Homo sapiens: one gene and its partner. The protein of the gene in region 2 binds, or shares a complex with, the protein of the main gene of each other region. Each region holds a gene or a part of one and is shown on either strand. Other genes may lie near its edges. A codon is read from its position in the direction of its gene.

Region 1 (14,383 bases), on a different chromosome or scaffold from region 2:
TTCTAATGTAGACTCTTTACTTTCCACATCATTATGTGTTATAAAAACTTAAACCATTTAAGAAGACAATTAGAATGTGGGAAGGAAAACCTGTAGACCTCTAGACTTCTCTCTTACTTACCATGCCCTGGGCCTAAGATGAATTATACCTTTCACTTTTTTTTTTTTAAACACTATCCACCTGTAGATAGGGTTGTACCTTTTACACAAAGCACTATTATTACTATTATTATTATTATTCTTTGAGATGGAGTTTCACTCTTATTGCCCAGTCTGGAGTGCAATAGCGTGATCTCGGCTCACTGTAATATCAGCCTCCCAGGTTCAAGCAATTCTCCTGCCTCAGTCTCCTGAGTAGCTGGAATTACAGGCATGCACCACCATGCCTGGCTAATTTTGTATTTTTAGAAGAGACATGGTTTCACCATGTTGGTCAGGCTGGTCTCGAACTCCTGACCTCAGGTGATCCACCCACCTCGGCCTCCCAAAGTGCTGGGATTACAGGCATGAGCCACCGCGCCTGGCCTACAGAAAGCATTATTATAACCTCACCAATCCAAAGAGGAAAGCAATAAGGTACCACTTCCAGGAGACAAACAGAAGAGCAGAGTGGCACTATGTGTGCTTGGGCCTGTGCCTACATGGGCATAGTTCAGCCTTGCTGATCGTGATTAAAATTCTCTCACCGTGGCTTAGAAAAGAAATAGAACAAAGTGTGTTCTCAGAGTTCCTGAAGACAGTATTCTATGCAAAGTATAACCCATAATAAAATTTGGTTCCACTCCTCTGTAAACCCACATTTCTTTTTTTTTTTTTTGAGATGGAGTTTTGCTCTGTTGCCCAGGCTGGAGAGTAATGGTGCAATCTCGGCTAACTGCAACCTCTGCCCCCCAGGTTCAAAGTATTCTCCTGTCTCAGCCTCCCGAGTACCTGAGATTACAGGCGCCCGCCACCACGCCCAGCTAATTTTTTGTATTTTTAGTACAGACAGGGTTTCACCATGTTGGCCAGGCTGGTCTTGAACCCCTGATCTCAAGTGATCCACCCGCCTTGGCCTCCCAAAGTGCTGGGATTACAGGCGTGAGCCATCATGCCTGGCCTGTAAACCCAGATTTCTAAGTAACACATCTCCTTTTTTTTTTTTTTTTTTTTTTTTTTTTTTTTGAGACAGAGTCTCGCTCTATCACCCAGGCTGGAGTGCAATGGCATGATCTCGGCTCACTGTAGCCTCCACCTCCCAGGTTCAAGCAATTCTCCCGCCTCAGCCTCCTGAGTAGCTGGGATTACAGGCATCCACCATTATGCCTGGCTAATTTTTTTTGTATTTTTGTAGAAATGGGGTTTCACTATGTTGGCCAGACTTGTCTCGAACTCCTGACCTCAGGTGATCCGCCTGCCTCAGCCTCCCAAAGTGCTGGGATTACAGGCGTGAGCCACCGCACCTGGCCCACATCCCCTTTCTCTAAGGTAAATGTGTCTCAGTGGCAAATGTATTGCTAGGTATATGACATTCAATTGCTCTCAGTCTACAGTAAGAGGCACCATGCTACAGCTTATACAGCCCTGTGGGAACTTCAAAGAGAAGCAACACATTTAGACAGAAATTGAGGACTTCTCGGACTCTTCTAGTCTTTTCTTTGGCATTAGAATAGCTTCGGTTTTACTGGTCTAATTACATGAATGTGATCCCTATACATAGACTGCAACAGAATTCTAATTAATTTTTAGCTTCCTATAAAAGTTAATCCAACAGCCAAGACTAAAGTATGTAATGAAAAAAACAGGCTGGGTATGGAGGCTCATGCCTGTAATCCCAGCACTTTGGGAGGCCAAGGTGGGATGACTGCTTGCGTCCAAGATTTCGAGACCAGTCTGGGCAACATAGTGAGACCCTGTCCCTACAAAAAATTAGAAAATAAAAAATTAGCTGGGTGTAGTGCACACGCCTGTGGTCCCAGCAACTTGAGAGGCTGAGGCAAAAAGATCACTTGAGCCAGGAAAGTCAAGGCCATAGTGAGCTGTGATCACGCCACTGCACTCAGCCTGGGTGACAGAGTGAGACCCTATCTCAAAAAATTAAGCAAAAACAAAATAAAACCAAGCATAACCTGCATAGCACTTTGTTATTATTCTATCTCATCCTGAAGTCTGCCATTTCTGTGGCATTCCAACCTTTTTCCTTAGCAGAACCCCAATCACAGCATCAGGAGGGGAATCTCATTAGCCTAATCTCCTCGGCACTCGCACTCTCCTGACCTGAACTGACTTATCAAAGTGAGGGGAAGGACTTACATTCCATGCTTGGGAGGAGTGTTGCTCAATTTCAGTCTCGATCTCTCTCTATATATATCTCTCTTCCTCTACTGCCAGATGTGAACAAGAAAAAAAAAAGCCCTGTTAACAACTGAGAGCTGCCATGTGACCATAATACTTTAGGATAAAACAGACTATGAGGATGGCAGAGTAAAGAGAAAAATCCCTAGTTCTTGAAACAGAATCAACCCTCCTGCCGGCCTAATCTGACTTGTAAAGTGAGCTAATATAGTTCCCTATTGTTTAAGCCAGCTGAGTCAGCTAAAGGTATCCTAAGACACCATGTAACGCCCAAATCCACTAGTGCTATTTCGAAGATTTTGTTTTGTTTTCTTTTCTTTGTTGAGACAGAGTTTCTGTCACCTGGGCTGAAGTGCAGTGGTGCCATCAAGGTTCATTGCAGCCTCAACCTCTCAGGCTCAAGCAATTCTCCCACCTCAGCCTCCCAAGTACCTGGGAGCACAGGTGCCTGCCACCACACCTGGCTAATTTTTGTATTTTTATTAGAGACAATGTTTCACCATGTTGCCCAGGCTGGTCTCAAACTCCTGGGCTCAAGTGATCTACCTACCTTGGCCTCCCAAAGTGCTGGGATTACAGGCATGAGCCACTGCGCCCAGCCTTCAGTCAGTTTTAATACAACTGTAATTTCAACTTGTACTGAATAAAAAGATAAATTTAATTTCAATTTCCTGGAGAAGTGTTGTAAGGGATTGGGCAATATTGTACATGAACCAATAAGGGCAGAAGGGAAGGCAAACAAGTATTAAAGGAAAAGAGGCATGAGACACGGGTATAAAAATTAAATCTTGCACTGTATCCAGCTGTCCCCCATTACTTAAGTCACATCCAGTGTCTATCAAATTCTAAGATGAGCTGAGGATTGCCATTATTCCTTAAAGGTGGGGCCTGGGTCTTGTTCACTATTGCCATGCTAGCACTTAACACAGTGCCTGGCACACGGTAGGTGCTCAATGAATTATAATGATACTAGGTAACACTTATTAAGTACCTAGTATATGCCAGGCACTATGTGAAGCACTTGACATTTATTAACTCATTTAATCCTCACAACAATCCAATGTGGAACCCCTTAGTATCCTATTTTACAGAAGAGAAAACTGAAGCCCAAAGAGGTTAAGTACCTTGCCCAAAGTCACACGACCAAAAAAGGGTAGACTAGTATTTAATCTTGGCCAGTTTAGCTCCAGAGTCTGAGGTCTTAACCAGTATGCTCTTGTAGATGCTTGTTCAAATAATGAGTGAGTAAATACATGACTTTTAAGAAATGAAAAGCAAGTATTTTAAGCCAGAAGACTTTAGCTCCTTACAGTGCAGTTTGTTGCTTCGGCTGTTGAGTGGTTCGGGTCCATTCACATCTTTGCTCTTTTCATTATCCTCAATGGGGCGGAAATGAGCCAAAGTTCGCATGAATCCACGGAAGTTTACCTGGTCCTCTCTGATTGTGAAATATAACAAACACAACACCATGTCAATCACGGTGATTATTTCTTATGAATTAAATATACTGGCAACAGCTTTAGCTACGGTAGCCTGAAAGGTCATTTAATGAGGTTTCTTTCCATACGCATGGTACTTTGGGACTCACAGTACCATATCATTTAAGCCTCACCCCAACCTTGTAAGGCAGGTGCTATTACTCCCACTTTATAAATGATTTAACCAGATTTAGGTAACAGGACTTACCAGGGATAAAGTTATCTATTGAATTTACTTGCATCTGTTTTCCAAAAAATGAATGTAGAGTAGTGCCAGCACTATACAAGACAGCCAGAACTTGAACTCATTGCTTTGAACTCTGCAGCGAGCCACAGGCAGCCCAATGACTCCTCAGCCACCTCCCACATCTCCCCCATCTCCCCTGCAGTAATGTATACCAAGGGATATTTTAAAATTAAGGCACATTATGGAAAGGCCGCTTTTAAAATAAAGTTTATTTAATTTTTAATTTTTCTTATTTATTTATTTATTTTGAGACAGAGTCTTGCTCTGCTTATAAATAAATAAAGTCTTGCTTTATTTATTTATTTTGAGACAGAGTCTTGCATCCAGGCTGGAATGCAGTGGCACTACCTCGGCTCACTGCAACCTCCGCCTCCCGGGTTCAAGCAATTCTCCTGCCTTAGCCTCCTGACTAGCTGGAACTACAGACGCCCGCCACCATGCCCGGCTAATTTTTTGTATTTTTTTTTTTTTTTTTTGAGATGGAGTTTTGCTCTTGTTGCCCAGGCTGGAATGCAATGGCGCGATCTCAGCTCACTGCAACCTCCGCCTCCCTGGTTCAAGCGATTCTCCTGCCCCAGCCTCTGGAGTAGCTGGGATTACAGGCATGCGCCACCACGCTCAGCTAATTTTATATTTTTAGTAGAGACGGGGTTTCTCCATGTTGGTCAGGCTAGTCTCGAACTCCCGACCTCAGGTGATCTGCCCGCCTCAGCCTCCCAAGTGGTGGGATTACAGGTGTGAGCTGCTGCACCCAGCCTAATTTTTTGTATTTTTAGTACAGACAGGGTTTCACCGTGTTAGCTAGGATCGTCTCAATCTCCTGACCTCATGATCTGCCCACCTCGGCCTCCCAAAGTGCTGGGATTACAGGCATGAGCCACCATGCCCAGCCAAGTTTATTTAATTATAAAAGCAAACATAAATTTGAAAATGTGGAAAAAAGAAAAGTAGATAGAAAAATACTGATCCGAGTTCTACCAATTACAACCACAGTTAATATAAATATATTTTCTGGCTGGGCACGGTGGTCCATGCCCATCATCCTAATACTTTGGGAGGCTGAGGCAGGCAGATCACTTGAGGCCAGGAGTTGAGACCAGCCTGACCAACATGGTAAAACCCTGTCTCTACTAAAAATACAAAAAAATTAGCTGGACGTGGTAGTGGGCACCTGTAATCCCAGCTACTCGGGAGGGTGAGGCAGGAGAATCGCTTGAAACTGGGAGGCAGAGGCTGCAGTGAGCCTAGATTGCACCACTGCACTCCAGCCTGGGTGACACAGCAAGACTATGTCAAAAAAAAAGAAAAGGAAAGGAAAGGGAAAGGAAAGGAAAAGGAAGGAAAAGGAAAGGAAAAGGAAGGAAGGGAGGGAGGAAAGGAAGGAAGGAAGGAATCAATCAATTAATCAATCAATCAATCAGCCAGGCATGGTGGCTCACGCTTATACTGCCAGTTATTTGGGAGGCTGAGGTGGGAGAATCACTTGAACACACAGGAGGCAGAAGTTGCGTGAGCCGAGACTGCGCCACTGCACTCCAGCCCAGGTGACGGTGCAAGACTCCCTCATATATATATGAATGCATTTTCTTCTAGTAACTTTTCTATGCTTTTCAGATAACTGTATTAGTATCCTGCCTTTTTTTTTAACTTTTAAGCATTTCTCCAATCAATATAAATACTTTGAAACATTTAAAACATATGCATAATTCTGTGGACACATCATGATTTTATTATTCCCTCATAATTGGATAATTTTTCTCTAAATAATCTTTTAGGCCAGGCACAGTGGCTCACGTCTATAATCCCAGCACTTCAAGAGGCCAAGGTGGGTGGATCACCTGAGGTCAGGAGTTCAAGACCAGCCTGGCCAACATGGTGAAACCCCGTCTCTACTAAAAATACAAAAATTAGCTGGGCCTGGTGGTGCATGCCTGTAATCCCAGCTACTTGAGAGCCTGAGGCAGGAGAATCACTTGAACCCCAAAGATGGAGGGTGCAATGAGTCGAGACTGCACCACTGCACTCCAGCCTGGGTGACAGAGGGAGACTCCATCTCAAAAAAAAAAAAAAAAAAGTTTTGAAAGACCTCTTGTGTATAAAGCCTTTTTGGTACTTAAGCTTGGAGAAAATCTTTTCATTGTGCCACAGGCTAATCAATAACCCTGTAAGAAATAATTCTCAAAACTTGAATGAAGAATGTTCTTTAATATTAAAAAAGAATGCCCCATGTAACATAATATAATTTATTTATCTAAGGCAGATGGCCTGGTTCCTGTGGTTACCTAAAAAAAAAAAAAACCCCAGCCTTTCTGTGCCCCACCGAATAGCTGAGGTATGTAGGTTCTCTTCTGTGCTCTATAGACATGCAGTTCATAGCCCTTCTAAAGGCAGAGTTCAAAGGCTAGCCTGTGAGCCATCTGTACTCAAAAGAATGACCTTGGCTGGGTGCAGTGGCTCACGCCCATAATCCCAGCACTCTGGGAGGCCGGGGCGGGCGGATCACCTGAGGTCAAGAGTTCAAAACCAGCCTGGCCAACGTGGTGAAACCTTAGCCAGGCGTGGTGGCGTGAGCCTGTAGTCCCAGCTACTTGGGGAGGCTGAGGCAGGAGAATCACTCGAACCCAGGAGGCAGAGGTTGCGGTGAGCCAAGATCACACCACTGCATGCCAGCCTGGGAGACAGAGGGAGACTCCGTCTCAAAAAAACAAAAAACAAAACAAAAGAATGACCTTTTAGTTCTTCGATGTATCTATACTGCTAATGGACCAGTATCTGGTCAAAAATGTCAGATCTGAGGAATCAAGTAATGTGGAGTAAAGTTTAAAACATATGCTAGAAAAAACACATTAATGATTATTGCTAGCATAAAGTTTCTGGGTAAAAGGGAATTGAATAACCATGGTCCACTTTCAAATCTCATTCTTTAAAAAAAAAAAAAAAAAAGCCCCAATGTGCATATGCCTAGGGAAGAAAGAAAAACCCAGAAGCCAAATATATCTATCTGATTAGAGCAAGAAGCAGAGTCGCAGCTTGCTAAGAGCTAAGCAGTGCAGCCCAGTAGAGCCCTCCACTTCCTCATATGCACTCTGTCCCATTTCCTTAGCAGTAGATTGGTGGACAGAATGACAGGTGATATTGTAGTCACAGCAAATGTAGTTTAGTCTTACAAAACAGCTTCCCACAAGCTGCTTCTTCAAGTAATCAATGGTGACTAAGGAATTCTGAAAAAAAGTTGGCAAAGTGACTCTCCTGGGTTTACTTTTCATTGCAAAAGGTTTGGATACAAAGCATAGCTGTGAAAGTTATCTCTGGATAGGGTTCAATGCTTTGCAGGGGTAAAAGAGGAATTAGAAAAAAGGAAGAATTCAGCATAAAAACCACACCTGAAACAAACAGGGCAGTTCAAGGAGAGAGAAAGGAAAAAATGAAAGAGGGCATAAGATTCCTCATAGTCAACGTGATTTGATTCCCATCTTTACATGAACTAACTGCCCGACCTAATTCCCCTTCTGACTTTCACTCACATTTCCTGAATGCCCAACCCTCTCAACTAGCAAATTCCTTTGCTCTCAATTTAGAGTTCTAAAATTTCCTCTCCAGGCATTTTATCTGACAGTGTCCTCATTGACAGTCTCATTATTAAAAACTGGCACCCATATAATATTTTGAAGTCCTGTGGGTCATAGACTATCCATATAAACCAGGAATAGATTGTTTAGGAAATTACTTAAAACAAGCTTATATGTAAGTTTTATTGTTGAAAAGGTACCTAATCAAATCAGTAAATATTTACTCACTACTGTGAAGGCAGTGTATTAGGTAGTAAAGCATATCAAAAGACTAGTTTCATGTTAGAAAAACCCACATTAAGAACAATCTACTTGACAAAGCATATGTGGTGAGAACTATGTTTATTCAATATCACGAAAGTAAAATAAAGGCTGGGGAAATGTTCCAGATTAAAGGAGGCTAAAGAGACATGACAACTGACCCAGACTAGATCCTGTACTGGAGGCGGGGAAGTGCTATAAAACAGATTATTGGATGACAAAATTGGAATATGAATATAAATTAGAATAAACTGGATAATATGTTAATAAAACAGAGTAATAGATTAGATAAGAGGATTGTATCAATGTTAAGTTTACTGAAGTAGATAACTATACTATGGATATGTAAAAGAATGTCCCTATTCTTAGCAAACACACACTGGTGCATTCAGAGGTAAAGGGTCATTACTATGCAACTTACCCTGAAATAGTTCAGAAATACAATTATGTGAACACACATACACAAAAAAATTACATAAGTATGTGTATATACATACATGTATGTATGTGTATGTATGTACGTACATGTAGGCATGTATGTATGTATATACACACACACGTAGAGTATGTGTAGGTAGAGAGAGGGGAAAGAGAGAGGGAAAAAGTGTCTGCAAGAGAGGGTATGTAGAGTAAGCACGGGTGTACAAGCTGCGCTGTTCAATACTGCAGTCACTTGTCACATCTGGTTATGTGCACTGAAAACATGGTCAGTCTGACTTGATATGTGTTTAAGTGTAAATTACACACTGGATTTCAAGGACTTATTATGAAAAAATGTAGGCTGGGCATGGTGGCTCACGCCAGTAATCCCAGTACTTTGGGAGGCTGAGGCAGGCGGATCACCTGAGGTCAGGAGCTCAAGACCAGCCTGGCCAACATGGTGAAACCCTGTCTCTACTAAAAATACAAAAATTAGCCAGGTATGGTGGCATGTGGCTGTAATCCCAACTATCTCGGAGGCTGAGGCAGGAGAATCGCTTGAACCCGGGAGGCAGAGGTTGCAGTGAGCCGAGATGGCACCACTGTACTCCAGCCTGAGCGACCGAGCAAGACTCTGTCTTAAAACAAACAAACAAACGAAAAAAGGATCTCAGTTATTTTTAATATTGATTATATATGGAAATAATATTTTAAATATATTAAATAAAATATATATTACCAAAGTTAACTTATTTTTACTTTTTAAATGTGGTTACTAGAAAATGTAAAATTACGTATGTGGCTTGCATTATATTTTTATTGGCTACTACTAAGAAGAGAGCACACAAATGAGGCAAAATGTTAACAATATAACAGTAGATGCATCAGGGCAATAAATATACAAGTATTCTCCGAATTACTTTTAACTTTTGCAACTTTTTTGTAAATTTGAAATTATTTCCAAATAAACATTTTTTAAAAGTCTAGTTTTACATCAATGATAAACATAAGAATTTTGAAGATAGGCTCATATATCTATTTGAAGTTTAAAACACACAGGAGGGTAGAACAGAAGAGATATTCTAGAAATGACAAAATTAGAATTGCTCAATATAATCAGGGGGTATCACAGTCTGAGATGGCACAACCAATATCATTATTCCAGATTAGCAAATAATTTAGGTTGTGATAGCCTCAGGAAGGAAGTCCAACAACTGTACTGACTCACCCCTCTGGAAAGAAGGCATTGATGATCCGGTCCCCCAGTGGGTTGATGGCAAGTTCTGGAATCCTCTGGAAATCTTCCCGGCTGCCAAGAGAATCACCTTGAGTTAGATAGAGATCATTGCCCTTAGCATGAACTCCTTAAGTCAGGAGGTAACAGGGTGTAACCTAGCAAGAATATTACCTCCTGGAATTTACTTCTGTGGCAAATTATACCAAATAACTGCAAAGAATAGCACTTTAATAGCTGCCAAGTGTTTCTTGCACCAACTCAGAAGTGGAAGGAGCCAGATTTGATTACGCCACATTCCAGTGAATTTAGCACACAGGTTACGTCAATAAGCCAACTGATGGACAAATACTAAGCTGTCCCTTAGTAAATGATTTCTTGAACATTAGCATTGCGTACCTAGTTATTAAGTTTGGAAAGTGAACAGCAAATGGAAAGTATCAAATACTGCAGAACTTGAATATGGGGACAAACACTTAGAGGGGTCTCCATATCCTTGTTAAGATTTTTAGGCACTTACAAAATGCAAGGAATTCTTAGGTGCTATTTACATGCAAGGAAATAATGTGACAACCAATTGATTTCCTTGTTCTGACTCTGGCTTTTTCTCCATTTCCATGTTCTGTGGACTAGGGCTACAGAAGTATTTAACCCTCAAACATGACAAGAGCAGTCATCCTCACATGACTTAGGCGAGGTTATACCAAAGCGAATATTGTCAGTTACCATTCATCACATATATATCATGTGCTGCTCTGTTTACATACATTATTCTCATTTCTTCACGCCAATGTTTTATGTATACCCTTTTAGAGCTGAGGAAATTGAGAGTCAGGAAGATAAAGTAACTTGCCCAAAGCCACACTACTCCTAAGTAGCAGAACTGTGATTTAAATCTAAGTCTGTAAGTCAAAGTATGTGTTCTTTTTCTAAAAACCATATTTCTTTCCTATATTGAACTTTTTTTTGAGACAGAGTCTTGCTCAGTCACCCAGGCTGGAATGCAATGGCATGGTCTTGGCTCACTGCCACCTCCACTTCCCAGGTTCAAGCGATTCTCCTGCCTCAGCCTCCCAAGTAGCTGGGATTACAGGCACTCTCCACCACGCCTGGCTAGTTTTTTGTACATTTAGTAGAGACGGAGTTTCACCATGTTGGCCAGGCTGGTCTTGAACTCCTGACCTCAGGTGATCTGCCGGCCTCGGCCTCCCAAAGTGCTGGGTGGGATTACAGGAGTGAGCCACGGTGCCCAGCCCTAATATTGAACCTTTTGAATGAAAGTTACTCTCCCCCAAATTCTTTATTTTTATTTTTTTGAGATGGAGTTTCGCTCCCAGGCTGGAGTGTAGTGGCTTGATCTCTGGGTTCACTGCAACCTCCTCCTCCCGGGTTCAAGCGATTCTACTGCTTCAGTCTCCCAAGTAGCTAGCATTACAAGCGGGTGCTACCATGCCCGGCCAATTTTTGTATTTTTAGTAGAGGTGGGGTTTTACCACATTGGCCAGGCTGGTCTTGAACTCCTGACCTCAGGTGATCCACCCACCTCAGCCTCCCAAAGTCCTGGGATTACAGGCGTGAGCCACCGCACCCAGTCCCCCAATTTTTCAATAAGTATTTTTTAAAAACTTTCTTTTGTTGGTTCCTGGGCCAAGAATACAAAGCTGTCTACAACTTATCTGTGCTGCAGTCTTCAAAAATATCAATGTCATGGAGGACAAAGAAAAGCAGAGGATTGTTCCAGATCAAGGGGGGGCTAAAGAGACACACAACAAAACCCAACACATGATCCCGGACTAGGAAAAAAACTGCTATAAGGACATTATTGGATAATATGTGAAAATGAAGCATGGACCATATAAAATATGGAATATTACATAATGGTACTGTTTCAAAATGCAACTTTCTTGATTTTGATCTGAGAATGTCCTTTCTATAGGAAATAAACAGTGAAGTATGTGACAAAATGTTAACAATTGGTGAATCTGGGTATCAGAATAAAAGTTATCTTGTATTGTTCTTGTAACTTCAAGTTTAAAATTATTTCCAGATAAAAAGTTAAAAAAAAGATTATAAACTAGATTTTACTCCTGCCTTCAAGAAGTTTACTTACAGACAGATAAAATGTATACCTCCACCCTCTTTGTAATATATGCTAGCAAAGACGGAAGATAATAAAATACTCCTACTGTACCCAGGAGACTTCACGCTCTTTTCCTCTTGTGGTTTAACGTTTACGTGGTGCTTAATTAACTCAGCAAGCTCTTCTCCACCACATTTGGTGACACAGGTAGAAACTGACCTAGTGGACTGAACACAAAGCTCTGGAACAATCATCCTGGATTCTAGTCCTTCTTGACCATTTAGTGTAATAATTTTATATCAATGCATGAACCAGAAGAAGTCATTCATAAGATAACTGGATTGCTTAAGATGATGAAAGAGAAAATTACCGAGGTCCTGATTATTTAATTCAACAAACATGTACTAAGCTTTTATTACATAATTTGTTCTGTAATACAAAGTCTACACTATCATCAAAATGTAGCTCCTCCTGTCTGACAGAGGTCAAGAAACAATAACTACTCACTTTTAAATTAAGACTAAGGCTGATTTGAATTGCATGGCTACATACTTCAGTTTAATGTCTAACAAGCTTAAGAAACTTTAGCTGAGAAAAGGCAGTTTAAATACCAAGTCTAGTATCAAGTGGTGATGCACAACCTAGCCTGAACTTCAGTCTCAATAAGGAGGTGTACACTTGGCCTTCCGATGGACCTGTCCTTTGATACTTTCTAACTCTACTCTTAGAATTTAGATTGTATATATAATGTAGTTCCAGTCACCCAGATCAAGGACAGTATTGCTAAAAGTATTAAAGTTAAAAAGAAAGAGGGCTGGGTATGGCAGCTCAGCCTATAATCCCAGCACTTTTGGAGGCCAAGGTGGAAGAACTGCTTCAGGCTAGGAGTTCGAGACCAGCCTGGGCAACAGAGCAAGACCACATCTCTAAAAAGTTTAAAAAAAAAAAAAAAATTAGCCAGGCATGGTGGCACGTGCCTGTAGTCCCAGCTACTTGGGAAGCTGAAGCGGGAGGATTGTTTGAGCCTAGAAGGTCAAGGCTGCAAGGAGCCATGGTAACATCACTGCCCTCGAGCCTGGGTGACAGAGTGAGACCCTGTTTCAAAACAGAAAAAACAAAACAAACAGAAAGAGTATAAAAAATAATTTGTCAGCCGGGCGCAGTGGCTCACACCTGTAATCCCAGCACTTTGGGAGGCCGAGGCGGGAGGATCATGAGGTCAAGAGATGAAGACCAACCTGGCTAACACGGTGAAACCCCGTCTCTACTAAAAAAACAAAAAATTAGCTAGGCGTGGTGACGGGCACCTGTAGTCCCAGCTACTCGGGAGACTGAGGCAGGAGAATGGCATGAACCTGGGAGGTGGAGGTTGCAGTGAGCCAAGATTGCGCCACTGCACTCCAGCCTGGTGACAGAGCAAGACTCCGTCTCAAAATAAATAAATAAATAAATAAATAAATAAATAAATAAATAAATAAATACTTTGTCAACTGTTAAATAAATAATATACGAACAAGTTATTATTACTGGTTGCTTTATAGTAGAATGTAGATCTGGGCAGTTTCTCTAAAACTTAGATTCTCAAATTTACCCATCAACATAAACCTAATAGAAAAAAATAAATACTCCAAAGTGGCCTAAACACCACAAGCATAAGATCCATCCGAAGGCCGGGCACAGTGGCTCACGCCTGTAATCCCAGCACTTTGGGAGGCTGAGGCAGGTGGATCACGAGGTCAAGAGATCAAGACCATCCTGGCCAACATGGTGAAACCCCGTCTCTACTAAAAACACAAAAATTAGCTGGGCATGGTGGCGCGAGCCTGTAGTCCCAGCTACTCTGGAGGCTGAGAAAGGAGAATCACTTGAACCTGGGAGGTGGAGGTTGCAGTGAGCCAAGATTGCGCCACTGCACTCCAGCCTGGTGACAGAGTGAGACTCCATCTCAAAAAAAAAAAAAAAAAAAAAAAAAAAAAACCATGTGAAATACAGATTTGTGTGGATTCACTGAAAAGCATACCAACATTATGTTCTGCCTCATGGTATACCTAGGAAAACCTTCCTTGAAGATTTTTTTAGAAAAAGACAGTATCACTGGTAGTAGTCAATTCTGAGAACAGAGCCATGTACGATGGCATTCTTTGTGGCCAAGAAATTTCCAATGGGGAGTGGTTTTCCAAACATTCAAGGGCACAGGGATGCTTAGAAAAACCAGGGTTTTTAGACTGTTAGTAACCAGACATGCCATCCCTCTATACTGCTCACCTTCACTGTGCAAGTCCCTTCTCTTACAGAGAGATTCAGCCTCACAGGTAACTTCTATCTCAAGCACCCACAGGTTGTTGCTTTAGTTGACTTGTACATAATGAGGAGATTAAAATCTGTTAATAGGACATACCCACTGGAACACACATTCAATTAGAAAACACAGCTTTCCAGGCCGGGCGTGGTGGCTCACTCCTGTAATTCCAGCACTTTGGGAGGCCGAGGTGGGTGGATCATGAGGTCAGGAGTTAGACACGAGCCTGGCCAAGATGGTAAAACCCCGTCTCTACTAAAAATACAAAAATCAGACGGGCGTGGTGGCGGGTGCCTGTAATCCCAGCTACTTGGGAGGCTGAGGCAGAGAACTGCTTGAACCCGGGAGGCGGAGGTTGCAGTCAGCCAAGATTGTACCACTCCAGCCTGGGCAACAGAGCGAGACTCTGTCTCAAAAAAAAAAAAGAAAAGAAAATACAGCTTTCCATTTTAAGTAGTATG
Region 2 (15,343 bases):
CATTCACCCATCCATCCATCCATCCACCCATCCATCCACTCGTCCATTCACCGAAACCATCCATCCATCCAAACCATCCATCCATCCATCCATCCATCCACTCATCCACCCATCTGACCATTCACTCATCCATCCATCCATCCACTTATCCATCCATCCACCCATCATCCATCCATCCATCCATTCACTCCATTCATCCATTCGCTCATCCACCCTTCCATCCATTTACTCATCCATTCATCCATTCATCAATCCACGCATCCATCCATCTATCTATTCACTCATCCATCCATCCATCCACATGTCCATTCACGTGCTCAGATCTGCAGGACTCTGCTGGGGACAGGCACTGGGGACACAGGAGGAATAAGACAGACAACCTCTGCCATTGTGGCATCAACCTGGTTGAGCCAAAAGACCTTGGAGGAGGAGGTGTCCTCAGGAGCTCAGAGGAGGAAGGCTCCGAGCTCAGGAAAGGTGGAGCAGGAGAGATGCTGAGTGTGAAGGGATGAAGCTGGGGTGAGTGCATGATTTGGGGGAGGGTGGAGTCTGGCATCCCAGGACCTGGTACCCTGAGACCTGGCACCCTGAGACCTGATACCCTGAGATCTAGCACCCTGAGATATGGCACTTCGCGACCGGGCACCCTGAGGCCTGGCACTTGGAGATCTGGCATCCTGAGACCTGGCACCCTGAGACCTGGTACCCCAACACCTGGTACCCAGAAACCTGGCACGCCAACACCTGGCACCCTGACACCTGGTATCCTGAGACTCTTGTCTCAAGGGTGGGTGAGGAAAGCCTTGGTGGCTTCATCGTGCACTGAGACTCCTGGTTGTGGGACTCAGCCCAGACGCTGGGCAGATGATGTGCAGGATGGGAACCCCAACTCTAAACATGCCCCAGTGCAGCCCCTGGCTCCTGGAGAAGCCGGCAGTGGGGGTGGCCACGCTGGGAGAGCTCAGCCATTTCTGCAGTAGACATGAGGCTGGTTGGGTGCTGGAGCTTGGGCCCAGACAGGCATCTTAACAAGCCTGTGTGGTCACAGGGAGCGCCACACACGCCCAGAGGCGGGGAGCTCCTGGGGTGGCAGGGAGTGGGCTGGGGGGGCTGGCGGCCAAGAGTGACTCACCATCCCTGTCTCTCTCTCAGCCTCTGGCGGAGCTGCCAGGTACCCACAGGGAGCCCTGGTGGTTCCTTCCCTGCCCCGATGCTATCAGCACTTCCCAACCTTTGCCCCTTTCCTCAGGATTCTCCCGGGCGACACCTTAGCTCCAAACGCCATGGATTGTTTTATAGCCTACAGCTGATTCTCCGTGGGCAGCTCCTGGAAAATGAAACTTCACCCCTTCAGGGCCAGACCCTCCCCTGTGGAGACTCCTGGGAGAGTCTTTGCTTCCAGGCCTCCCGTGATGGCTCCTGACTCCAAACCCACTGAGCATACCTCTCCTGCCAGGACTGGGGTCCACAGGGCCCACTCACTGGTCCTCTCCTGGGAGGACTGGGTCCCCTGGGGACTTTGCTGACCACCCTGGCCTTCTAGGCCATCCTTGTCCCCAGAACCTCCTTTCCTATGCTTCTTCAAGGAGAACCTAAGGGCAGTTCAGCTGGAGTGGGTAGCAGATATGGTGAAGGGGTAGGTGCTGTGCGCATTGAGGGATTCCTGCCTCCAGGACCAGAGCACATGCAATAAAACCATTCACCCCAGGAGGTGAAGGTGACCCACAGCTGCCCTCACAGCCTGGGCACTGAGTGCCCGGTGGAAGGCTGCACCTGGGAGAAATCCACAGCTTAGGCAGGTGGTCTAGGCAGTGTCACACCCCCAGTGGCGGAGGCTCCCTGGGACACGCTGGGTAAGACAGCGGGGGTCCGGGAGTCAAGTGTCGGGTGAGGACGACCTCCTGCACCCACCCAGACAACAAGGAAGCACCCAGTGCCTCAGATTTGGGGCCGGGAGCAGGGAACCTGGCGCTCAGGGATCTGGGTCTTGACCCTGTCCAGTTAAGGAGGAGGTGCTGGAACCCCAAGGCTGAAGCTCCTGCAGAAAAGCATTCCCACACTCCCACAGTGGGGGTAACGCCGCTCAGAGGGGGGTGGGGGGGCTGCGCCGCTCAGAGCAGGGGGCTGCACTCCTGACCCTGTGCCCTAGCGTCCTCCTGACCCTCCTACGGCTGCGCGAGGCACTGCAGACTCCAGATACCCGTCTCGCTCCTGCCTGCCCTTCCAGCCAGGGTTCACCAAGATGTGGGGCGGCCTGGGCCTCCGCCATCACATCCCTCAGCAACACAAGCTCCACTTCGAGAGCCTGCCCCCACCGCCCCCACCCAGCCCCACTGTCCTGGTTTCCCCGTGGGCAGTCACTGCCGCTGCTCAGGTCCTAACCCTCAAGGCGCCACCTCCCTGAGCCAGCGCTGCCCAGCTCTGGAGTTCAGGCCCCATGGGATGTCAGCTCCCACACCTCCTGTGCGTCCACGACCCAAGGGGTACCCACGGCCAGACGCCTGGGGACAAATAGACCCAGCTGGGCCTAGAATCCACTCCCGGCCCCAGCCCCTCCCCGGTTTCCGACATCTCAAAATTGTAACTCCCCCAGTTCCCTTTTGGTCGGGTCCTGTCGCTCATGTGTGGCTCAGAGCTGCAGGGCGAGGTCAGCGCAGCAGAGCCCCCCGAAGGGTTGAGAACAGGATGGGGCCAGGAGGTCTGGCCCCTGCTGTGTCACTGATGACCCTGTGACATCCCCACTCCTGCTTCAAGGAGGCCCTGCTGTCCACCGCCCTGATGCCCAAGGGAAGCTCCCCACCATCCTCCCGGAATCTCCCCGGTGCCATTCTCTGCCCCATGGCCAGGCAGTCGTCTGAGAACTCAGATCTGACCACATCCACTCCTCACCACGACGCTAGGTGGGGACCAAAGTCCTCCAAGGCCTGTAGCTGAGTTGCTCGGGCCTCCCTCTGCCTCCCCAGGGACCCACCCTAGGCCTCCTCCTCTGGCTTCTGACACCCCCGCCTCCCTCTCCTTCCAGGGGCCCATTGCTTGCAGTCCTGACACCTGCCACTGCCTGGATCCCACCCCAGGGCCCCCACCCAGTGCTGCCAGGCCTGGCAGTCTCTGCAAGGCACAGCCTCAGCCCCCAGAGGAAGCCCAGGAAGGAAGGAAAGCCTGGCCCAGGGTTCCCAACACGGACGGTGCAGGGTGAGGCGGGGATTCTGGTGGGCACCTAAGGCCTAGAGTGGCCCTGGTGCGGGTGGCTGCAGGCTGGGGGCCCCCAAGGGGCACAGGAGGAAGCCCCCTCACCCTGCCTGAGGCAGACACTAGGCCCTGCCGCCTCCACTGCTAAAGACTTCCTCGTCCTCTCAGTCTGGGAGGTCTGCGCTGTGGAGTGGCTCCGTGGCCTCGGCCCTTGCCTCCCCTTCTGCATTTTAAAAAGATGCTGTAAAAGGCAGGGGAACCCCAGTGCACACAAATAGGGGGCTTGTGGGGAGCCCTTGCCGGAGCCAGACACGCGGCCTGAGGCTGGTGGGCCAACAGCAGCACCTGTTCCTTGCCCAGGCTCCTGGGCCACCTGCTGAGGCCCCAGCCCCAGTGTTTGCTTGAGGCAGCTCTGGCCCTCTGGCCATCCTCTGTCCCAAGCTGCCTGGAGTAGAAATCTCCTGGGATCAACATTGCTGTGGGTTTCAGGGTACCCGGACTCTTATTTCCCCAACCAGGTTACAAATGGCTTGAAGAAGGCTGGGGCTGTGAGTTAGAAACTCTCAGGATGTGTGAGAAATTCAACAAATGTTTGGAAAAGCAACAGGAATGGCAGCTCTTTTCTGCTGGAAGAGACATTTCTGTTCGTGTAACTTGAGACTGAAAGAGTGTGGCCAACCCCTGACCATTTTAAACAACAAAATGTGCCAAGCAGCTTAGTAGGTTCAGACCCCAGTCCGGGGGCTGTGGGCATGTGGAGGAGGCTGGGTGAAACTGGAGAAGTTCCCGCTGTGGTGCAGGCTTGGGCCCCGGTGTCTGTGAAGGCCTGGACCTGAGGGTCCTCTGGGAACACAGGTCGTGCACCTGAGGCTGGCTGCACAAGGAGGACGGTCTGGGCCAGTGGAATCTGAGAAGTCCAGAGTTCACAGGGAAGGGGTTGGGGGAGGAAGCACACAGGGAGGGCTGGGGGCTGTGTTCAAGAGGTGTGGCTGGCAGAGAGGGGATGGAGGGTGGGACACCCTGGGGGCCAATCCGGGCAGACCCAGAGCAGACCTCAGCTGTCACTGCCGGGGCTGCAGAGTGCACAGTGGGTTGAGGGGACGACAGGGAGCGTAAAGGGCAGGTCTGGAGAGGGTCTGCGCCTGTGGGATACCGCGATGAGCTCCCACAGCTGCACAGGGTAAGGCTCGCCTTCCCAGGTGGAGCCAACAATCCGAGACAAAGACAGCCGCTGAGTGCTATCAGGGTGGGCCTTTGTAAAGGACCGCCCTGCCCCGGGGAGTTGCTGCTGGAGCCGGCAGCCTCCCCGCCCTCAAGGACGTCTTCCCAGAACCAGTCCAAGTGTTTGGGAGACCTGAAGGCTTTTCCCTGTGAATAACAAACTCTGAGGCCAGGCAAAGCCCTGGTCAGTGTGCCTTATCTGCCGGCTCCCAGGCGGGGCTGGCTGGTGCCTGGCGGCTGTCATTGGACCTTCAGATGCCAGATTCTGACTCTGTACACTGGGCTAAACTGGGAGAGGCCCCAGCTTGTACAGAAATTAGATATTCACGGCCGGGCGCGGTGGCTCACGCCTGTCATCCCAGCACTTTGGGAGGCCGAGGCGGGTGGATCACCTGAGGTCTGGAGTTCAAGACCAGCCTGACCAACATGGAGAAACCCTGTCTGTACTAAAAATACAAATTAGCTGGGCGTGGTGGCTCATGCCTGTAATCCCAGCTACTCGGGAGGCTGAGGCAGGATGTGGAGGTTGCAGTGAGCCGAGATCGCGTCATTGCACTCCAGCCTGGGCAACAAGAGCAAAATTCTATCTCAAAAAAAAAAAAAAAAGAAAAAAAAAGAAATTACCTTTTCAGTTTACACCAGGGGGGCACTCCCGTCAGAGGAAAGCAGGGTGAGCTTTAGGACTGGGCGGCCGCAGAGCCCAGGTTGAGTCTGGACCTCCCTGATGCCCCAGGGGCCCTTCTCAAGGAAATCAACTGTAGGAGGCAGCCAGCCTCAGAGACTCCCCCCCGGCCAGCATCCCAAGCCCCCAGTGGAAAGCCCAGGGAGGACAGCCTGAGCCTGGAGAGCAGGCAGCCCGGCGGGGAGCTGAAAGACACCAGGGCGAGGAGGAGGCTGCGGAGAAGGGAGGAGGCGGGAGGGCTCAGAAGAGCCCTTATGAGACAGAAAGCAAACACACAAGGGGCCTGAAGGGGAGGGGAGACCCTGGCATAAATAGGGCAGGCGGCAGGCGTCACTGAAGGAAAAGGCGCCTTCTCCAATCAAGCCTGCTGGGCGTACCAGGTTCCACCAAGGCCAAGGTCCTCTCAGCTGTTCTCCCCGGAGCCTGTCCCTCCCCTGTCCTGCGTGGGCGCCCCTCCTCGGCCCCAGCATCGAAACCTCCTCTCGCCCCAGTCCAAAGCTGCTCTGGAAACCTGCCGCGGCGCCTGCTGCTCTGATCTTGCTTCTCCTGGCCCCACTCGGGCCCCCTAATCCCCCCTCCACACGAGTGACCACCTCCCTGCCACCCCTGGAGAGACCCTACCCTGTGGACCAACACATGAAACTTTGATCCCCACGAGCTCCTCAGGAAGCTGACCTTCCTGTCACCTTGCCAGGAGCTACCTGCCGTGCCCACATTACTGGTTCATTGGCGCCGGTTAAGAAGAAGAGAAATCTGACCGACCGGGATTTTCTAAAAAAAAAAAAAAAAAAGGAGGCCCGCCAATGGGAACGCTGCGCCTGTAGGGAGGATTCTGCTGGGTTTCATGCGGGTAGCACCGCTTTTCTTTTCTGCCCTTGTAACTCACGAAAAAACGCCATCACTCCAAGGACGTTTCTCTAAAAAGCCTGAGAACCCCGAAGGAAACCCGGCCCCGGGGACTCCCTGGGCGCGAGCAGCCTGCAGTCTGCGGGGCTCGGAGCGGAGGCGGGGCGGAGACCCCACAGGGACCCGGGAGCCGGGAGTCCGGGGCTCCGAGGCTGTGCCCCCGCCGGGGAGGGGAGACCTCGGGACCCGCAGGGGCGGCTTAGCGCGGCCAGAGTCGCTCCCGAGTCTCGCTCTGCTGGACCCGAGAGCCGGACTCTCCCGGGCGGCCGCCGCGCGGCTCCGACCTGATGCGCGCGGCCACAACGAAGCCCCCAGGCCCAGCAGAGGCGGCCGCACACCCCGCGGGCAGATCCGGAGACCCCGGGGCCACTTACCGATCTTGGCCAAGCTGGCCACGAGGATCCAGAGCGCGATGACGTAGGGATCCTGCACGTGGGCCCACTCGAAGGTGACCACCTGGAAGCCCCCGCTCTCGCCGTGCGCGCCGCCGGGCTCCACCTCGACGCCCCCGGCCCGCGCCAGCCCGCCCAGCGCCAGCGCCAGCAGCAGCCCCCGGTCGGGGCCCCGGGCCCCGAGTCCCCACATTGCCGCCTGCTCAGCGCAGGGCTGGGACGCGCATGTCGCGGGGGGTCCCGGCTGGGCTGGGCCGACGCGCGGGGCTGGGACCCGGCGAGGACCCGGCGCGCTCCGGTGCCGGTACCGGCTACAGTCCGATCCCCGCCCGCCGGGGTGGCCTTTAATCCCGCGGCCCCCTCCCGCCCCGGGGCGGAGCCTGCCCGCCCCCGCCGCGCACTCGCGAGCGCAGACACCGCCGCAGCTCCCGGCACGCCCGCCCCGCCCGCGCACGCCCACCCCGCGCTCCCTGGTGCCCACCCTCCCCCGGAGCCCGCGGCCTGGAGGTCCGGGAGGTCGCGGCAAGAGCGAGCCCGGGACTGCGCGGCCGCCTTCCTGGGGCGTGGGGAGCACAGCGCGGGGCAGCGGGACAGGCGGTTCCGCGCAGCTCCTGGGATGCCCGGGCAGCTGTGGGTGCGCTCGCCCCAACCCTCCTTCATAAACGCAGGGCCTGGGGCTGCGCAGACCCCACAGGGCGGCCCAAGGGTGCACAGGGGCCCCAGGTGTGTCTTCACACAGCCCCTCGCTATTGTCTTCAGCAGGAACCTGCATTCCACAGCCGGACCGGCCACTTACCAGAACTCGGGGGCGCCCAGGCCTTGCGTGGTGCGCTGGTAAGTCTCTCTGCCCCTCCCATCGCCAGCCAGCATCCCCCACCCCAGGCTCTGAGATGGGAGCCCAGGGGCCCCCGTGGTCTCCCCTGCCCCATCCCCTGCCTTTAGACCTCCGCCCAAAACAATTCGATACCCCCAGGGCTTCACACGGATGCGGGGCCTCTGCCCACAGCCCGCTCCGGCAGCACTGGCTCTCTTAAGCATCTCAGGCTCCACTGTGCAAACCACACCCCTGTTTTCCTCCAAGCCCACCCTGCAGCCTTCCAGCCCCAGACCTGGGACGCAGGTGGACTTCTTTCGCTCACAAGGTTTCCAAGCTCTTAGCATATCTGCTCTACTTTCAAAATGTGCACAAAACCAGCGGCTTCTGGGAGCCTGCAGCCACCTGCAAAGGCTCCTGCTCGGCCCTCTACCTGCCCCTTCAGTCCCTCCTATTGGGACCCTCCCTCTCAGAGGAAAGGCTCAACGTCTCCCGGGAGCTCAGACCCCAGCCACTGCCTGACCCCCACCCCCATGCACTCCACGGCCCACACCAGCAATCGGCGCCTCTCGGGGCCTTTGCACGCCCTGCTCCCTCTGTTTGGACGGCTCTTGTGTGCTCCCTTCCTCAGCTCCCCAGGGGCTTGGCTCCAATGCCACCTTCTGGTCCCACCCGATACCCACTCAGCTCACAACTGTGGCAGCTAAGCTCCCGCCTCCCCTGCTTACTCGGTTGGCTCCGGGAATCAGCTCACCTCCCAGCCCTGGGGGCTGCTGGCTTTGACCTTGAGCTGTCTGCCCTCACCCTGGGAATGTCTGCTCCACGAGCAAGGGGCTCATGCATACATCCCAGGAGCTTGGAAGATAGCTGGGCACACAATAGCACTCGCAAGATAGTGGCTGAGCGGATGGATGATAGATGGATGGAAGGACAGATAGGTGGACAAAGGGCAGGTGGGCGGTGGGGTGGGTGCAGATGGAGGATGGATGTGTCTTCTGACATCTGAGTGGGGGCTGCGGAGGCCTGAGGAGGACAGTGCTGAGTTCAATGACTTCACCCTGCAAGGGCCCCAGTTTCATGCTAATGGAAGTGGCCCGTGTAGCACAGGGAAGGTGCATTCAGATGGTGCTCGCCTGGTGACTCGGCTGCTGAGTGGCGTGGAGGGAGGGCAGCCCTGGCCTGGGCCACTGCAGGGTCTGGACAGGGCACCGGGGGAGTGGAAGTGTGTGACTGGCCACTAGTATGGTCTTGCGAGGTGGGAGCATCGGAGTCGCTCTTGGCCTGTGTCCCTGCCCCACCTGTCTCTGTCCCCCACTCCACTCCCAGCCTCTTGTCCCAGAGAAAAAGCCAGCAGGACAAGAACAGGATTCCCTCCAGTCCGGAGCTTCCCTGCTCTTTCCTTATGGTTCCTGGGTGGAGCCGTTAGGAACGACGTCCTCTCTGAAGATGTTGCCCTTGCATTCCACAGGAAGGCCAAATTTCCACCAGACCAGTGTGTTCCATGATGCCCACTGGACCTCCGGCCACCCCACCCCCCAACCAGCCTGTCCTAAGAGCCGACAACCTTTCTCCACAAAGCTGTTCAAAGGGCAGAAGAGCAGTGTCACTGCCTGGAAGGACAAATCCAGAACAGACACCAGTGCCAGGCGCTGGCCATCAGGTAGTGTGCTGCCCACACCTCCACTGCCCCCCACAGCAGGAAGGGCTGCCTCATGGAGAATAGAAAGGCAATGAGCCCCTGAAGTGGCGTGGCCAGAACAAGGCACACCCCACTGCCCACGAGTCCTGCCAGGGCACACCCCACTGCCCACGAGTCCCTGCACAGGTGAGAAGTGTGGCTGTTTGGCAGCATCTCAATCTGTGAGCATTTGGAGGATGAAATGCGTCTGCACTCCAAGGTTGCTGGAGGGCTCGGGGCAGACGGGCGCTGCCCCAGCCTGTGATGGGCATGGCCTTGAGGATGCCAGCCTCATGCAGAAGCCAGTCTAGGGGATTATACAGGGTGTGCACACCCACTCCCCTACCCTCGGACTGGAGCCACAAAACCCTCCCTCTAACTGGGTCGTGGTTTTAGGCAGGGCCGTGGCACCCCACCACTGCAGGGGCCACCATCCATATCAGGCAGACTGTATGAACCGTGCCCCTTGGAATTGTACAGTGCACAACCTGCACATCCTCATGGCCAAAAAGACCCAGAGACTTGTGTGTGTGTGTGAGGGGGTCTTGGGAAGTATCCTGAGAACATTCCTGTCCTGTGGGTGGTGACGATCTGATAACTGCCCGACCACTTCCTGCCTCAGGCAGGCACGCATAGCATTCTGGATCCTTCCACCGTGGCCTGGACCCCTTGTGGTCCAGGGACCCCCTGCACGTATGGGGAAGGGGCGTGGCTGTAAAACATTCAAAAATGTGGAAATAATGCAAAAGCCAGTCGGAAAACAACTGTAATCTTATACCCAGCTGCCACAGCATCTGAACTTCAGGATTAAGAAAATAAAACTGAAAACACCTAGTCTGTCACATTAATTTCCTGTCATGAATTCCACATACGGCTTGTGAAAGTGTCTTGTGGATGAAGAGGCGCATCCATTCATACTGTTGTTAACAATATTTAAGAGAAGAAAGTTAAGTTTTTAAGTAACTTCCAATGCTTGAAGCCAGGCAGGAGACAGGCATCACTGCCCACTCTAAGTTTATTTTTCAACCCAAAGTTGTCAGGGGCCAGGTCTTCTTAAGGAAGGTTTTATTCCACTGGGAGCCACACCTGCTGGCCTTCCCTTGGTCCACACCTGCTGTGTGCCAGGCACATCTCAGCTTCAGGCAAGAGGCCCCTCTGGGAGATGCCCTTCCAGGAAAGAGACCACCGCGCCCCCCCGTCATGCCACCTCCCGTCAATGCCACTCTTATTGGTTGTTGGATCCGGGGGATACAAATGTCTTTCTCAAAAGCAGATTAGAGCTCAGCCCTTCCCTTCCCGGGTGGCCTCTGAGGCCTCAGGTGGGACCTTTCCTCTTCTTCAGAGATGGACAGACTCTTGACCAGCCTGGAGCTGGAGGGCCTGCAGGACTTGAGGCCCGCGCTCTGGTCCGTCCTGTCCGTGTTGGGCCTGGGGTCTCCTCACCCGCGGAGACTCACCTTTCCTGGCTCCCTGAGGGCACCAGCCCGGGTTGGAGTCAGACCCCCCCACTGTGACACCCCTGCGGGGGTAGCTCAGGGCCTGTGTCTGAAGCGGCAGCTCCCCCCGTGGGTTGGGTGGGGAGTTCAGGGGCCCCGGGGTTGGGTGGGGAGCTCAGGGGCCCCGGGGTTGGGTGGGGAGCTCAGGGGCCGGGGGCTGCGCCGGGAGGGGCGAAGGGCTGGGGACGGCGCCGCAGGAGAGTCTCTGTGCCCCGCAGTCCACCCCAGGGCAATGGCGCGGGGGACCTGGCAAGGCCCGGCAGGCCCTCCCAGCACCGTCCCCGGCCGGCCCGTCAGTGCCCGTCGGGGTCGCGCGTCCTCCCTTCCGCCCTCGGGGACAGCCCGGCCGGCCACGCCGCCGAACTCGCCATGGGCCTCTCTCCGCATCCGCATGTGCATCCGCAACCGCTTCCGTCCCGCTGAGCGCACGAACCCTCTCGCTCCTGTCCCTCCCGCCCCGCCCGCCCCGCCCGCCCCGGACGCCTCTGCTGCGGTGTCTTAGCGGTCCGCGGACAGGCGACCTCCCCCGTGGACGCCCCTCTCCCGGCCGCCGCCCCGCCCCGCGCCCCGCTCCCCCGCGCCCCTGGGCCGAGACCTCCGGTCGCCTCGCCCCGTCTCCGGCCACGAAAGGCGCTGCGGACCTGGCGGTCACGCGCGAAGCCAGTGGCCTCCCCCCGCCCGGGGCTCCGGGATCCGGGCACCAACAGACCCGGAGGGACCGCGCCGCCCCGGGCAAACCCGCCCACCCCGTTGCCCAACACAACTGGAAGCACTAAAACCGAATCCAACCGTGTGCAGAGACCAGCCCAGCGCTCTGGGAGGCCCAGGCAGAAGGATCACTTGAGGCTGGGAGCTCGAGACCAGCCTGGGCCACATAGTGAGACCCTGTCTCTAAAAAACATAATAAAAAACAGTAGCCGAGTGGTGGCGCTCGCCTGTGGCCCCCGCATTTCGGGAGGGGAAACCCTTGGGAAACGTAGAATAGAAGCAGATTCCTTTAAGCTGATAGGTAGCATCTGTAAGGCCGGCAGGAGCAGGTGCTGGCACTCAGGAAGCCTCCTCTGAAGCAGGAACGTTTGCCACCTGCCCCCACCCTCAGCCTCATCTTTGGAGCAGGTGCTGGCACTCAGGAAGGCTCCTCTGAGGCAGGAACCTCGGCCACCGGCCCCCACCCTCAGCCCCATCTTCAGGATGCAAGACAGCTCCCGCCTGTAGGCAGCACAGAGGTCTTCCTCGCACACTCTCAGAACCGGCAAGAGTTAGCTCAGCAAGGCTGCTGGCTACAAAGCCAACAAGCCACCGTGAACTGGGTTTCTATGCACGAACAACACACTTTTTAGAAAATGAAAGCTAATTTAACAGTACTATTCATGCAGCATCAAAAATATGAAATACCTAGGAAAAAAAAATCTAGCAAGGGGTGTGGCGGAAATTTATAGGATAATTCAACAGTGAAACCAAATGGACATGGAGCTTTCTTTGTGGAAAGGTTTTAAATGATGGATTTAATTAATAAATATTAGGCTGTTTGGACTTTTCTTTTTGTGTCCATTTTGATAAATCATATTTTTTGACTTTTTGTCTTAATTCTGATAAATTGTACTTTTCAAGAAATGTGTTCATTGCATCAAAAATTCATGTTTATTGATGTAAAGCACATAATGTGATTGTAATCTCCCCTGTGTCCATAAGACTCTGCAGTGATGTCTCCCTTTTGTACCTCCTGGCGATGATTTTTGTTTTCTCTTTTTTAATGATCAACATTGCTGGGAGGTTTATCAACTTTATTCATCTTCTCACAGAACCAGATTTTGGTCTTGTTGATTTTCTCTGATTTATATCTGTCTTCTCTTTCATACATTTTACTATGATTTCCTTCCTTCTGCTTTGCCTTTATTTTGATGTCCTTTTTCTAGTTTCTTGAGCTGAAAGCATAGGTCATTGGTTTCAGCATTTCCCCTTTTTAAATGTGGAACTTTTTCAATAAGCTGTGGATTTCCCTTTGGTGGCTAGTTTTGCATATCCTGGAGGCTTTTTCATATGCTGTGTGTTCCTCATTCAGCTCAAGACATTGTATCCTGGACGCTTTTATATGCTGTGTGTTCCTCATTCAGCTCAAGACATTTTCTGATTTCTACTGTGGCTCCTTTGACATATGGGTTATTTAGAAGTGTGTTGCTTAATCCACAATTGCTTAATTTCTAAACATTTGGAGATTCTCCTCTTATCTTTCTCTTACTGAATCTACTGTAATTCCACTCAGCCCAGAGAACACAGGCTGTGTGACCTCAGTCCTCTTATGTTTGGCGAAAGGCGCTTTGCGGGAGGAACCTGGACCTCAGTCCTCTTATGTTTGGCGAAAGGCGCTTTGCGGGAGGAACCTGGACCTCAGTCCTCTTATGTTTGGCAAAAGGCGCTTTGTAGGAGGAACCTGGTCTGTGTGGGTGAATCTGCCTCAGTCATTGACGCAGTTCTGTGTTCTGTGCTCTGCTCAGACTCAACGGGACTCGTAGGATGCAGGGACGCAGAGCTCTAGGTGTGCTGGTTTGTTCCAGTTGGGTCTGAAAATCTTTATCTTCCAAGACCTTTTCTTAGTTAATAACATGCAGACGGCTGACGGCAGCCCCCCAGGATCCTCACGCTGCAGCTGAGCCTCTCCACCTGTGTGGGCAGCAAGGTTTCTCCCTCTCATCGCCCCCGTGCCCGCCATGCTCAGGGATGCGGCCTGTGCGCCCCGTCACGGCTTCAGACCTGCTCAGAGGAAAACGAGCTCACTCTGCTCTGGGTCCTTGGATGTGTTTTCTTCTGCCTCCTGGACTCGGTTCATTTCCCCATGGCGTCTTTATAATTTGCGTCCCTTCAGCAAATGTTTGCTTGAGCGGTGTTAGTTTCTGCATGAGGCACAGACGTACCCTCTGAATGCAGGCAGCACACGGGAAGCAGACCCTCGAGGGGGACGAATGTCAGAGGAGATGCGCAGGCAATTTGTGAGCGTGGAGTCGCCAGGAAGGAGAGATGCGGCCGGACTGGATGCCACATTCCACCACCCAGGCCGGCTCACCTCTGCGCGGCCGCGTTCCAAATCATTGTTCACACAGAATTTGGCTGCAGCGGGTGTCCTTGAGTCTCTCACACTTGAGTAATCATCCAGGTCTCCTCCTCCGGCTTCCTTTGAGGCCCTGGCCCCCCAGGGGCTCCGGCGTGTGTCCCCAGCAGACACTGCCTGGCCTGCCTGGCTCAGCCTTGCATCTACCCCCAGGGTGTGTTTGCCCCTCCTCCACGAGATGCGCTCTTGTCCTCCCTCTCCTCCCCTCCAGGGACCCTCCAGAGGCTCGTTCACTGCCTGGAGACACAGCGACAGCCCTCGCCACTAGCTGGAGGCTGGTGCTGGTGTGGGGCCTCAGACCCCTAGAAACACCGGGAAGTCAGGTGGAGCTGCGGGAGCTGAGACCTGGAGCAGGTGGCTGGCCGAGCCGGCACTGCCCTCACTTGGCATGGACCAGTCTTACTGTGCCTTGGAGCACCCCCCGCAGAGCAAGGGTGGTGAGTCCCTTGGCTACAGGGCTGGGCACGCTCTAGGTGGTTGACACGTGTGTGCACCAGGTGTGCAGTGGGCAGGCACCATCACACTTGCCGCTATTCACCGGCGGGCATTCCCACCTGCCAGTGGGGGTGGCTCTGGCTGGGGTCACCTCTGTGCCTGCCCCACAGCCCTTCCACTCTGCCTCCATAGAAACAGCTGGAGATGGACGGAATTGCTCTCTCAGGCAGCTGTTCAGTCAATCTTAGCTCACGCTGGATCCCAGATCTGTCCCTCCCCAGGAGCGCTCAGCTCTCCACTCTGCCCCATCCTGCAGCTTCGGCTTTGACTCAGACAGGCCGGGAGATCCCTGGTATTTCTGGTCAGATGCCTGCCGTGGGGAGAAGAAGAAAACTCTGGAGCTGGCTAGGCCCAGGTCCTCACCAGGCTTGGGCAAGGTCTCCTGGACATCGACGGGCCTCACTTTCCCCATTCGGCTGTGGTGATGCACGCTGTGAAAGGCTCTGAGCTGGACCAGGGTCTCAGTTTCCCCTATGTGGTTGGGGCACATGTTGTGAGCAGCTCTGAGCTTGACCAGGGCCTCAGTTTCCCCTATGTGGTTGGGGCACATGTTGTGAGCAGCTCTGAGCTGGACCAGGGCCTCAGTTTCCCCTATGTGATTGGGGCACATGTTGTGAGCAGCTCTGAGCTGGACCAGGGCCTCAGTTTCCCCTATGTGGTTGGGGCACATGTTGTGAGCAGCTCTGAGCTCGACCAGGGCCTCAGTTTCCCCTATGTGATTGGGGCACATGTTGTGAGCAGCTCTGAGCTGGACCAGGGCCTCAGTTTCCCCACGTGGCTTTGGCACACGCTGTGAGTGGCTCTGAGCTGGACCAGGGCCTTTCCCATGCCATGTACCTCAGTGCGTCCCTGAAACTGTCAGAGTGACCTGAGTGACCTGTGTCAGGCGGTGACCGCCCAGCCCTTGCACCTCAGACCTCCTGGATGGAGAGGACACTCAGCTCACAGGGCAGTCTGACGAGAAGCCTCTGGAGCTGTGGAATGGCTCAGGCTGCCGGACTGGGGGCCAGGTCCCCTTCGGCCTGAAAACAGCCGCCATCTCAGCTGGCCGGGAGCCCCGCCTTGCCTGGAGTTCAGTGGTATCAGGCCAGGCTCAGAGCAAACACGGCCTGAAAGCCGTGACAACGGGCTGCCGTGCTGGGCTTTGTCTGAGCTGACGCTCGGGGACTTAGGGAGGCTCTCGAGTTCAGAGCCAGGGCCCCTCCTGGCACAGCTCAAAGTGCATCGTGCTCCCGGAGGCCCCCATTCATGGGCTGAGCAAAGGGCTCGGGGGTTGGCGAATTTGCCCCCATCCGTGGGGGCGAACACAGCTCTGTTGGCGCACTCACTGCCGACAGCATTTCTTCTCAAAAGAATCCAAGAGA

The links.
Region 1: the proteins of SLC9A3 (region 2) and CHP1 are in contact, whole or in part, in a cryo-EM structure (PDB 7X2U), measured with the Homo sapiens proteins. Residues at the interface, in NP_004165.2 of Homo sapiens: Tyr396, Arg397, Met398, Gln400, Glu402, Arg474, Leu475, Asn476, Glu477, Leu479, His480, Gly481, Arg482, Ala483, Phe484, Asp485, His486, Ile487, Leu488, Ser489, Ala490, Ile491, Glu492, Asp493, Ile494, Ser495, Gly496, Gln497, Asn501, Arg504; in NP_009167.1 of Homo sapiens: Arg30, Leu31, Arg34, Leu38, Lys40, Glu49 (codon at 9,614), Phe51 (codon at 9,608), Gln52 (codon at 9,605), Arg53 (codon at 9,602), Ile54 (codon at 9,599), Glu56 (codon at 9,593), Leu57 (codon at 9,590), Ala58 (codon at 9,587), Ile59 (codon at 9,584), Asn60 (codon at 9,581), Pro61 (codon at 9,578), Leu62 (codon at 9,575), Asp64 (codon at 9,569), Ile66 (codon at 9,563), Phe70 (codon at 9,551), Phe83, Leu87, Phe90, Leu115, Phe117, Ala118, Leu121, Tyr122, Leu135, Leu139.

What each region holds. Positions count from the first base shown.
Region 1 is NC_000015.10:41,252,145-41,266,527, reverse strand, and holds part of CHP1 (calcineurin B homologous protein 1), read right to left. Parts: intron 9,829-14,383; exon of another isoform or gene 9,718-9,828; intron 9,619-9,717; coding exon 9,538-9,618; intron 3,773-9,537; coding exon 3,645-3,772; intron 2,364-3,644; coding exon of another isoform or gene 2,341-2,363; exon of another isoform or gene 1-2,340. UniProt on the Homo sapiens protein: Calcium-binding protein involved in different processes such as regulation of vesicular trafficking, plasma membrane Na(+)/H(+) exchanger and gene transcription. Involved in the constitutive exocytic membrane traffic.
Region 2 is NC_000005.10:517,740-533,082, forward strand, and holds the start of SLC9A3 (sodium/hydrogen exchanger 3 isoform 1 precursor), read right to left. Parts: upstream 6,711-15,343; 5' UTR 6,584-6,710; coding exon 6,373-6,583; intron 1-6,372. UniProt on the Homo sapiens protein: Plasma membrane Na(+)/H(+) antiporter. Exchanges intracellular H(+) ions for extracellular Na(+) in 1:1 stoichiometry, playing a key role in salt and fluid absorption and pH homeostasis.